2 separate regions of the Homo sapiens genome follow, and region 2 is linked to region 1. A link means that fine-mapping ties the variant in region 1 to the plasma level of a protein whose gene starts in the linked region. Region 1 holds a variant in brackets. A gene starts in the other region. All regions are shown on their forward strands.

Region 1 (5,382 bases):
TTGAAAAGGTAAATGAATGACACCAGTATATGTTACTTTGAATCTTACCAAAAAATAAAGTCATGAGAAATCTATCTGTTTCATCCAGTTTCAAAGGTTTCTTTAAATCATCCTCATCTTCATCACCATCACAATACTCATCATCACCACCCTCATCACTATCATCTTCTATGACTGCAAACTTCTTATCTTTCTCTTCATTATAGAAAGTTTCAAGATGAGTATACGCATCTATCATTCGAATTGTGTCATTAATTTGTAGGGCCTCATTGTACTTCCTCAAATGTTCTGCACAAACACGTTCTTTGCGATTTCCTTCTTTTGCAGCTGTGAAAAAATATATTATGTAAGTGAAATAATAAGCATATAAACCCCCTAAAATTGTGCCATGGACTTGAATATATGTTACTAACTGCAAAACTGGCTTCACCTTGGTTTTAAAATGGGCAAGTTAAGGCTCAAAATGTGTCCTGAGCTCTGAAACAGGGCAAGTTTTCCAACTCCTAGACTTGCTGCTTGAGTTCTGCCTCAGCAAAAACATGTAGCTGATGCACAGAGAAATGGCATGAAAATATATTAGTTGAGTTTGCCTTTGGAGACAGAGCTATTAAAGTTTATCTCAAGACTCTGGAGACAAAGAGAAAATTGGATAGCATTGGAATCTCTCTCCTTAGAAAAGGAATTAGAACATGTTTATTATGCTTGTCCTACAGAGAACACAGAAATTCTATTTGGAACTACTTTTGCTTTCCATTTTTTGGGGAATCTGTGATATAGTCATCTAAAATCTTGGTATAAACATGGGATAAACTAAGTGTTAGGTCCAAACCTAAATTACCTTTTTTTTCCATTTGAATGGCCCATTGTTCATAGGGTTGAGTTCCAAAATCTGACATTGGACTCATTTGACAATAAGTTTGAATCCTTGTCATTATTTCTAGAAGTTTCTCTTTAAATGGATCCTAAAAATAAAGTACACACTTATTCTTATGTATTCTTATTGTTAAAGGAATAACATTATCTTTGTTAGAATAATTTCTAGGTTATAATAAATCTGATTCATCTTTGTTTAGACAAAGTAACAGGTTAGTGTCCCATCACTTGTCTGTACATTTATTTTTGTCAGCTTCTCTTTTAAGCCTGCCATCAAGCCACACCCACACCAACACCCTGTTACCTCTGCTGGAATCTCCAACTTAAAAGGTTAACAAAAGTAAAGTTAATGAATTATATAAACCTTGTATGTTAAAGGTAACTTAGAAAACACATATTGCATTAATGCCACAATTATTTAGAAAGCTTACAGTGTAATTTAAGAAACATTCCTCCTTTGTAAAACTGGTTTCAGTATTATTTCGACCAAAATAAAAAGTTGAAGTAGAGTCTGAATAAAGCCAGAAATAAAGGAGTGCATGCTATATGATTCCATTTATATAAAGTTCAGAATCAGTGAAAACTCATTTTTTGTTTTAGAAGTCAAGATAGTAGTGATTCCTGGGGCATGGTGACTGGAAGGGGGAGCCAGGAGCTTTTAGGATACTGGCAGTGTGCTGTCTCTTGATTTGGATTTTGTTTACATATGTGTATTCAGTTTAGGAAAATTCAGCAATCAGTACACATATGAATTTGTACTTTTCTGTATGTATGTTATGCTTCAAGGTATATAAAAAAATTAAAGTAAGTTTAAAAAATGGCAAATTCTTTTAAAAAATGTACCTGAGAAATTTAGTTTTAAAAATCTTTATGAGTAGAAACATGCATTTAAAATTATCAAGTAAAACCAAATAAGTAACAAAAAAAGGAAAGTGAATAAAATATATTCAACTGTGCTAGTGCAGCTGGAGTAGATAGCAGTCTTTTTCAGAATTTAAAAAAAGAGATATACGGAGGCTAGTTACTAACATTGGTTTAGTGCCTACTATATTTCAAGCATTGTTTTATCTACTATGCATATTTCATATCATTTGATCCCAACATTCTTATTTTCAATGGTATTATCAAGTACATATGGCCAGAATTTGTAATGCTTTCTAAATTTTACAAAATAAAGTATTGACATAATTTACTGGCCATAATGTCCAAATTGACTCTCAGTTTATTCTTATAATTCCTGAAAAATTCATCAGAAAAGCATCATTAAAGTAAATATTTCACTTCTTTACCATTGCACTGTTTTCCTAAGAAAGTAAATATGCAAGTATGCAAATTAGATAGGATTCCCATTATCATTGCCAAATGTAATTTGATAGCAACAAAATGGCTCTGTGGAATGTCAGAAAATCAATCCTGGAATTCACGAAGAAAATTAAAAAGGCTAAAACGAACTGTCATAACCCCTCCAGCTTAGTTACACATCCCTCTGCCCATGGCCCCTCACTGTCCCTTTTAACTCATATGTACAAACAATGAATAAGCTATTCCTCATGTAAATTAGAAAACTAAAAGAGGTCTAGAGGCGAGAATTCACTGTAGTGCTTTACTGCCTAACATCAATTAAAAAAAAACCTGAAACTTGTTTGCTAAAATTTTTAAATAATATTTTTCAGATGGTCAGTATAAAATAGCCTTTGCCATCTTTCTACTGAATGTAGTATTGTCAATCAATAGATATAAAACATTAAGCCCATACTTCTCTGGTTGCATCTGCAATGGCAAACTTCTTGCATGGCTCCTGTATTTGGTTTTTCAGTTGATCAAGGTTTTCTTTAACAGTTTTAATAGTAAATGCATCAAGATTGGCACATAGCTGGAAAAGAGACATTTTTCAATATTTATGCAATTATTTTTCCCTTTCACTTTATTCAACGTAGAACTCTTTTTCATGTAAAAAATATGTAGCATTAAATTGTAGCATAAATATGTGGTATAAAATTTCATGAAAGTAATATGTAGCATTGCTTGCTAAATATAGCATTTTAACATTGTTTTATTATGGATCTCATTAACCCACAATCAGCAACATTTGTCCTAATATAGGAAAAAGGAGCTTCTAAATCAAGTTGGTGTAATAACAGAGAAAAAGGTGTATTGATATTCATTCCTTAAATTCCATTTTCCAAGTGGAA[A/G]ACTGACATGGAAAGAGTATAACAATTTACCATCATTGACAGAGAATGATTTTGAGATAACCATGTTACATGAGGCATATCAAAGGTCAACTTGACATCCGTGGATCATACTACCACCTTCTTCTACACATAAAGCAGGCATCTACACATAAAGCTGGGAGCATCCTTAGTCATGTTCCTTGATTATTAGATTGGAATTAGTCCTTAATCCCAGTAATAAATTATATTTTGGAGCCTATAATTGCATCTCTGAATGTTGTGTCTACTCTACATAATTTGTATTGAATTCAACTTAAAGTAAGGGACTTAAAATTCAAATGCAATTGCCTTGGTACCAAAATACTTCTTGGGCTACTCTGATTTACTTAACACTCAAGATTAACAGTAGCACTGTATGTGGTGTTACCATTAGGGGGCAGCTGACAAGCTCATCTTTAAAGATCTTCATATCCCTATTTCCCTTTAATTTGAATTACCTAGATTCCTAGAATAACATATGAAGGACAGAAAATACGCAGTTTTGAAACTCATGGAGTAAGACTTTATTATGTGTGACAACTAGAAACTTTCATAGTTTATGCATATTTCTATATCAGGTAGATCATTAAATTTAACCATAAGAGTAGATGTTCAAAAGAAGGCATTCTATTTATCTCAACTTCCCATTAATTATATCACTCTCCATCATTTTTATGATATGATTTTGTGTTATTGATATTTATTAAGGCATATTAGTATTCTGTAGAAGACTGAGTATATTTATTGTACTAAAGCAAACAGATTTCACTTAACTGATGATCACAGCACTTGAACTCAATCTTATTTAATAAGACCAAGAAGTCCTGGCATTTGTTTTAGCTTTGCTTTCATTGGTTATACATAAAATTATGACTTACTTTTAAAATGTGTTCTTCAGCTTTGGCTTGCTTCGTGGCCCCTCCAACACCAGGTGAAGCTGTTAGTCCCAGTATCTGAGGAAGGGGAATCACTGGTTTGTTTTCTTTCTTGAGTCTATTGTTTTTCAACTTCTGCATCAAATAATGCCTCATGATGTTATTATACACTGCTTCTTTGTTGGTGTGATGACATTCATCAATGATAATGAGGGAAAAGTCTTAAAAGAAAATTCAAAGAGTTCATTTCTCCATATCAGCACACTACAGTGAGAAAATAGCTTTAGACCAGTAATTGAGCTGCCTTGGGGATGCCTTCTCTTGGGCACGACACAAGAGCAGTCCACTTTCAGTTTTTAGGAGGGAAATCTAACTATACTAGCACCTGTACACACAGACGTTCGTATATACTAATCATGAAACTCCCTGTTAGACATTCTCCTTCTTTAATAGATAAGATTCAGAAAGTTTACAGAGCTAAAAAGCGTTAGATGTGGAATTCACACCCTGGCTTATTACAAAACAAATCTCAGGATTTTACTTTTGTTCTTTAATAAAATATTTAATTTTAGGTTGGTGAATTTTATTTTTATTACATCAAGTGAAAAACACACTATTTAAAGAGGGAAAATTTTGCCTTGTTTTAACATTGCATTTAGTTATTATAAATTATTTTTATTTTTTTCCATTCTTTCTCCTACCTTCTCATCCTATACCCCATAAAAGACAAGATTTGTATTTTTATTCTATGGGAAAGGGAAGCAGATCTAACAACATTCAATAGCAAATAAAGGAACTTGTCAGAATAAATGGAAAGTCCAGCGAGTGCTTGCCTTAATAATGGTATTCTTATGCAGAATAAAGTGGTCTAATTAAAAACTTACTTTTTTTGTTTCCTCCAGGAAGTAGAAGGATTTTAATAAAACCATAAGCAATAAAAGACAATTTAAGCCACGAACATTTAAAAAATTAACAAATACAGCCTTTGTTATCATCAATATTACTATTAATTTTTTTAAAAAAATAAACACTTAAACTGACCTGACAATTGAACACCAGCATCTTCTCCATTTTCCAAGTTTAAGAGGGAGTTTTCAAGGATTTGAGCTGTACTGATAATAATATCACAGGACTTGACAACTTCTGGAAATGATATTTTCAGTTGGGTATCACCACTTAATCCAATAACACGATACCATTTCTTCAAAAATGGTTGGAACTCCTTGCGGAAGAGCTGTTCAACTAGCAGTACCTTAAAAAAATGTGAAGATTTTTTAAAAGAGAGAAAGTTAGTCGAAGCCAAAAGAGTGTTGATCAAAGGCCTGTTTGGCATCCAGCATGAAAAGAGGTGTTTACATTATCAGTGAATCAGGCATAACAACGTTCCCATCACTCCTTTCATTCATCTGTCAATAAGCACTGAT
Region 2 (5,382 bases), not on the chromosome of region 1:
TTTCTTACCTGCTACACAATTACTATTACTGCAGGGATGATGATAGCAAGGCAACCAGACTCACCGCCTGCCTTCTCTCCAGGCAGCCCCTCCAGTCCCCAGGAAATGCGCTTGCCCCCAGCGAATAAGGAGTTCCCTACCCCTCTCATGCTACCCAGAGGGACAGAAAGGAGAAGTGGGCCTGCTACCCCCAGAGGTTCTCATCTTCTACCTGGGCTGCATATGGAATAGGGAGCAAGTACATAGGACTCATCATACCCCATTTCTGCCTCTATCCCACTGTGGGACCTTAGGCAAGTCACTTTGCCTTCCTATGCCTCAGTTATCTCACTAGTAAAATGGGCATGATTATTGTATTAGTCAGGGTTCTCCAGAGAGACAGAACAAATAGGATGTTTGGATAAATAGATGATAGATAGAGAGATATAGACTAGATAGATGAGAGAGATAGACTAGATAGAGAGAGAGAGAGAGAGAGAGAGAGAGAGAGACTAGATAGATGAGAGAGAGATAGGAGGGGATTTATTAGGGGAATTGGCTCAGACAATTAGGGAGGCTAAGAAGTTCCACAACAGGCCATCTGCAAGCTGGAGAACCAGGGAAGCTTGTAGTGCAGCTCAGTTCCAGAATAAAAGCCTCAGGACTTAGGGGGTAGCTAGTGCAAGTCCCAGCATTTTTTTTTTTTCTGAGATGGAGTCTCACTCTGTTGACCAGGCTGGAGTGCAGTGACATGATCTCAGCTCACTGCAGCCTCCGCCTCCAGGGTTCAAGCGATACTCCTGCCTCAGCCTCCCAAGTAGCTGGGACTACAGGCCTGTGCCACCACGCCTGGCTGATTTTTATATTTTTAGTAGAGATGGGGTTTCACCATGTTGGCCAGGCTGGTCTCGAACTCCTGACCTCAAGTGATTCACCTGCCTCAGCCTCCCAAACTGCTGGGATTACAGGCGTGAGCCACCATGCCCAGCTGCACATCCCAGCATTCAAAGACCAAAGAGCCTGGAGTTCTGATGTTTAAGGGCAGGTGCAGGGTGTCCCAGCTCATAAGAGAGAGCAAATTCTCCTTTCCTCTGCCTTTTTGTTCTATTCAGGCCCTCGGCCAATTGGATGGTGCCCACCACATTGGGTAACAACGGGTCTTCCTTACTCAGTCCATTGATTCAAATGCCAATCTCTTCTGGAAACACCCCAGAGTCATACCCAGAATTAACGCATCACCAGCTATCTGATAAACTTAACCAGTCAAGGTGACACCTAAAATTAACCATCACAATTATAAAAATAACTACTCAGAGAAACATTAGGAGCATGAACTGAAATTAGTTAATGGGACATTCTTAAACCAATGGCAGAAGCTCCTTCTTGGCCAGGAGCAGTGGCTCATGCCTTTAATACTAGCACTTTGCGAGGCTGAAGCAGGAGGATGGCTTAAGGCCAGGAGTTCAAGACTGGCCTGGGCAACATAGTGAGACCCCTATCTCTACAAAAATAAATAAATAAATAATAAAGTAAGGTGGTGGCTCACGCCTGTAATCCCAGCACTTTGGGAGGCCAAGGCAGGCAGATCATCTGAAGTCAGGAGTTCGAAGCCAGCGTGACCAACATAGTAAAACCCAGTCTCTACTAAAAATACAAAAACTAGCCAGGCGTGATGGCATGCACCTGTAATCCCAACTACTTAGGAGGCTGAGGCAGGAGAATCGCTTCAACTCGGGAGGCAGAAGTTGCAGTGAGCCAAGATTGCACCATTGCACTCCAGCCTGGGCAACAAGAGCAAAACTACGTCTCAAAAAATAATAATAACAATAAAATAAAAAACAAGCTTTTTTTTTTTTGAAACAGGATCTCACTCCATCACCCAGGCTGGAGTGCAGTGGCACGATCTTGGCTCACTGCAACCTCCGCCTCCCGGGTTCAAGTGATTCTCATGCCTCGGCCTCCTGAGTAGCTGAGACCACAGGCGCATGCCACCACACCTGGCTAATTTAGAATAAAAAAGAAGCTTCCTCTCTGCCACTCAGGTAGCCTTATCCCTAATCTCAGCCTCCGTCAGGGACTCCCTGAGGCCAGTTGGCTGAAAGCTGCCCAGGGAGTTCTAAGGATTTCAGTTTCTCTTTCCTTCTTGATGCAGCTCCCAGCTCACTTGGCCCTGCCCACACCTGTTCCCTCATCAGGCTCCCAGACGGGCCCCGCCCACTCATGCCTCTTAAGTCAAAGTGGAAATTCTCATTTCCAATTACCTTTTCACTTTACACACATCATCTTGGATTGCCCATTTTGCGTGGCTAAAAAGCAGAGCCATGCCGCTGGGGAAGCAGTTGCGATTTAGCCATGGCTGCAGCTTGGACCGTGGTGCTGGTGACTTTGGTGCTAGGCTTGGCCGTGGCAGGCCCTGTCCCCACTTCCAAGCCCACCACAACTGGGAAGGGCTGCCACATTGGCAGGTTCAAATCTCTGTCACCACAGGAGCTAGCGAGCTTCAAGAAGGCCAGGGACGCCTTGGTGAGTTCCTGTTGCTGTGGATGAACCACTTCTACGGGTGTCCCAATTACTGCCCTTCTACTGTGGGCTAGCCTCTAGCCTTCCAACTATGGCAAACCTCTATCCTTTCTGCACTGGGTTAAACCCATGCTGTCAGGCCAACTTCATCCTTGCTGCTATGAGCTAGCTTCCAGCCATCCTGCTGTGGGCTAACCCCTGCCCTTGCTCTCTAGGAAGAGTCACTCAAGCTGAAAAACTGGAGTTGCAGCTCTCCTGTCTTCCCCGGGAATTGGGACCTGAGGCTTCTCCAGGTGAGCTGAAAGTCAGGCCCCCTTCACCCTTCCCTTGACCCTCTCCCCCCTCTTCTTAAGTGGCCCCTTAGCCTTCTTTGTTTCCCTTGTCCTTCACTCTCTTGGACCTCTCCTCACCTGTCCTGTGCCCCTGCCACTTCAAAACTGCTCTCTTGACTCTGTCCTTCCCCTGGGTCCCTTTTATCATCTCCCATCGGCCCCACTTCCCTAGCTCGCTCACCTGTCCCTGTCACTTCCACTCTCACTCTTCATTTCTCTCCCAAATGTCTCCAGTCTGTCGCCCACCTGTGCCTTTCGTCCTGCTCCACTTCTCCCTGTCTGTTCCCAACACTGACCCCCTCTCCCTCTCACCTGCCTCTGTCACCTGTCCCTCATTATCTCTCACTGACATTCATCCAGCTCATGCTCCCCCCTCATCCACCCTTCTCTTTTTTTTTTTTTTTTTTTTTTTTTTGAGACAGAGTCTTGCTCTATGGCCCAGGCTGGAGTGCAGTGGCATGATCTCGGTTCACTGCAACCTCTGCCTCCCGGGTTCAAGCAATTATCCTGCCTCAGCCTCCCGAGTAGCTGGGATTACAGGCATGTGCCATGATGCCCAGCTAATTTTTGTATTTTTAGCAGAGACGGGGTTTCACTATGTTGGCCAGGCTTGGTCTCGAAATCCTGACCTCAGGTGATCCACCCGCCTCGGCCTCCCAAAGTGCTGGGATTACAGGCGTGAGCCACCACACCCAGCCCTACCCTTCTTCTCTGTGCATGCAACTGTCCCTCTCTTACTGTGCCCCCAACCTGCTTTCTCCTCACCCGTCCCCACCCCGCCCCAGAGAACTTCTGTGACCCCCGTAAGTCCCCTTTCATTTGTCTCCATTTCACTTATCCCCTCACCTGCCTCCTTGACCATCCTGCCTCACCTGTATCCTTCCTCATGTCTTCCCCCTCCTGTCTCCTTCTCCCCAGACCCCTCACCTGTCCCCACCACATGCACTGTGTCACCGACCTTCCCCAGGACTGCCTACCTGTCCCCACTAACTGGGTCTTCTTGCCTGTTCTCCCTCACCTGCTCTTTCTCACCTCTCCTCAGGTGAGGGAGCGCCCTGTGGCCTTGGAGGCTGAGCTGGCCCTGACGCTGAAGGTCCTGGAGGCCGCTGCTGGCCCAGCCCTGGAGGACGTCCTAGACCAGCCCCTTCACACCCTGCACCACATCCTCTCCCAGCTCCAGGCCTGTGTGAGTCCTTGGGGCCCGGGCACCCAGGTCTGTGGGCTCTGAGCAGCATCCTTCCCCTGTGGTGGCCCAGGCTCCGCCTCACACACCGCCCTCTTCTGCCCACAGATCCAGCCTCAGCCCACAGCAGGGCCCAGGCCCCGGGGCCGCCTCCACCACTGGCTGCACCGGCTCCAGGAGGCCCCCAAAAAGGTGAGTGACCCAGGAAGAGAAGGACCAGGGTCTGGGGAGCCAATAGGAGCCCAGACCCTGGACAGCCCCTGACCCATCCCCTCCTCCCCTACAGGAGTCCGCTGGCTGCCTGGAGGCATCTGTCACCTTCAACCTCTTCCGCCTCCTCACGCGAGACCTCAAATATGTGGCCGATGGGAACCTGTGTCTGAGAACGTCAACCCACCCTGAGTCCACCTGACACCCCACACCTTATTTATGCGCTGAGCCCTACTCCTTCCTTAATTTATTTCCTCTCACCCTTTATTTATGAAGCTGCAGCCCTGACTGAGACATAGGGCTGAGTTTATTGTTTTACTTTTATACATTATGCACAAATAAACAACAAGGAATTGGAACCTTCTGTGATAGGTGAATCCTTGAGTGTGTGTGTGATTGTGGGTCTGTGACTGGGTGTGGATGTCTGGGTGATGCAGGCAAAATTTGTGACTCGTTGTGTATATTTGTGTGTGCCTGACTTCTGTGACTATGTATGTATTTGTATGGAAATGAGTGTCTGCCTGAACTTGAGTCTAACCAAAGGTGCGTAACTGTGCATGTTCATGCCCACACGTGTGCAAGTATGTGTGTGTACTGCCAGGCATGGTGGCTCACACCTGTAATCCCAGTGCTTTGGGAGGCTGAGGCAGGCAGATCACTTGAGGTCAGGAATTTGAGACCAGCTTAGCCAACATGGTGAAACCCTGTCTCTACTAAAAGTACAAAAATTAGCCGGGAGTTGTGGCATGACCCCGTAATCCCAGCTACTCGGGAGGCTGAGGCAAGAGAAATGCTTGAACCCGGGAGGTGGAGGTTGTGGTGAGCCGAGATCACATCACTGCACTCCAGCCTGGCCACCAAGAGAGAAACTCCATCTTAAAAAAAAAAAAAAAAAAAAAAAAAAAAAAAAAAAAAAGGCCAGCCTCCGTGGGCTCAGGCCTGTAATCCTAGCACTTTGGGAGGCCAAGGCGGGCAGATCACTTGAGGTCGGGAGTTTGAGACCAACCTGACCAACATGGAGAAACCCCATCTCTACTAAAAATACAAAAATTAGCCGGGTGTGGTGATGCATACCTGTAATCCCAGCTACTCGGGAAGCTGAGGCAGGAGAATCGCTTGAACCCGGGAGGTGGAGGTTGTGGTGAGCGGAGATCACGC

Direction of the effects. Positions count from the first base shown, and alleles are read on the strand shown. Strength reflects both the effect of a copy and how common the allele is.
With allele G in place of A in region 1, the plasma level of the protein whose gene starts at base 2,317 in region 2 is lower (weak association).

What was found. A credible set is the group of variants that fine-mapping cannot tell apart. PIP is the chance, under the fine-mapping model, that this variant and not a neighbour inherited with it causes the effect. The UK Biobank Pharma Proteomics Project read protein levels with antibody pairs (Olink). The fine-mapping took linkage between variants from a reference panel, not from the people measured, so its PIPs are less certain.
Region 2: it holds the start of IFNL1, and the variant in region 1 is the best candidate, but not a certain one, in a credible set for the plasma level of the IFNL1 protein (UK Biobank, PIP 0.80).

Annotation. Positions count from the first base shown.
Region 1 is chr2:162,277,367-162,282,748 of GRCh38, forward strand. IFIH1 (interferon induced with helicase C domain 1) reads right to left here. Exons shown (of 16, transcript NM_022168.4): 6 at 5,000-5,210; 7 at 3,962-4,179; 8 at 2,630-2,746; 9 at 839-962; 10 at 49-327. Among named protein-coding and RNA genes, the nearest start is that of FAP, 37 kb to the left of the region's middle. The variant A/G (reference allele first, on the strand shown) is at 3,066.
Region 2 is chr19:39,294,091-39,299,472 of GRCh38, forward strand. IFNL1 (interferon lambda 1) reads left to right here and starts at 2,317. Exons shown (of 5, transcript NM_172140.2): 1 at 2,317-2,502; 2 at 2,715-2,792; 3 at 3,874-4,017; 4 at 4,123-4,206; 5 at 4,301-4,583. The coding sequence starts at 2,332. The coding sequence ends at 4,426.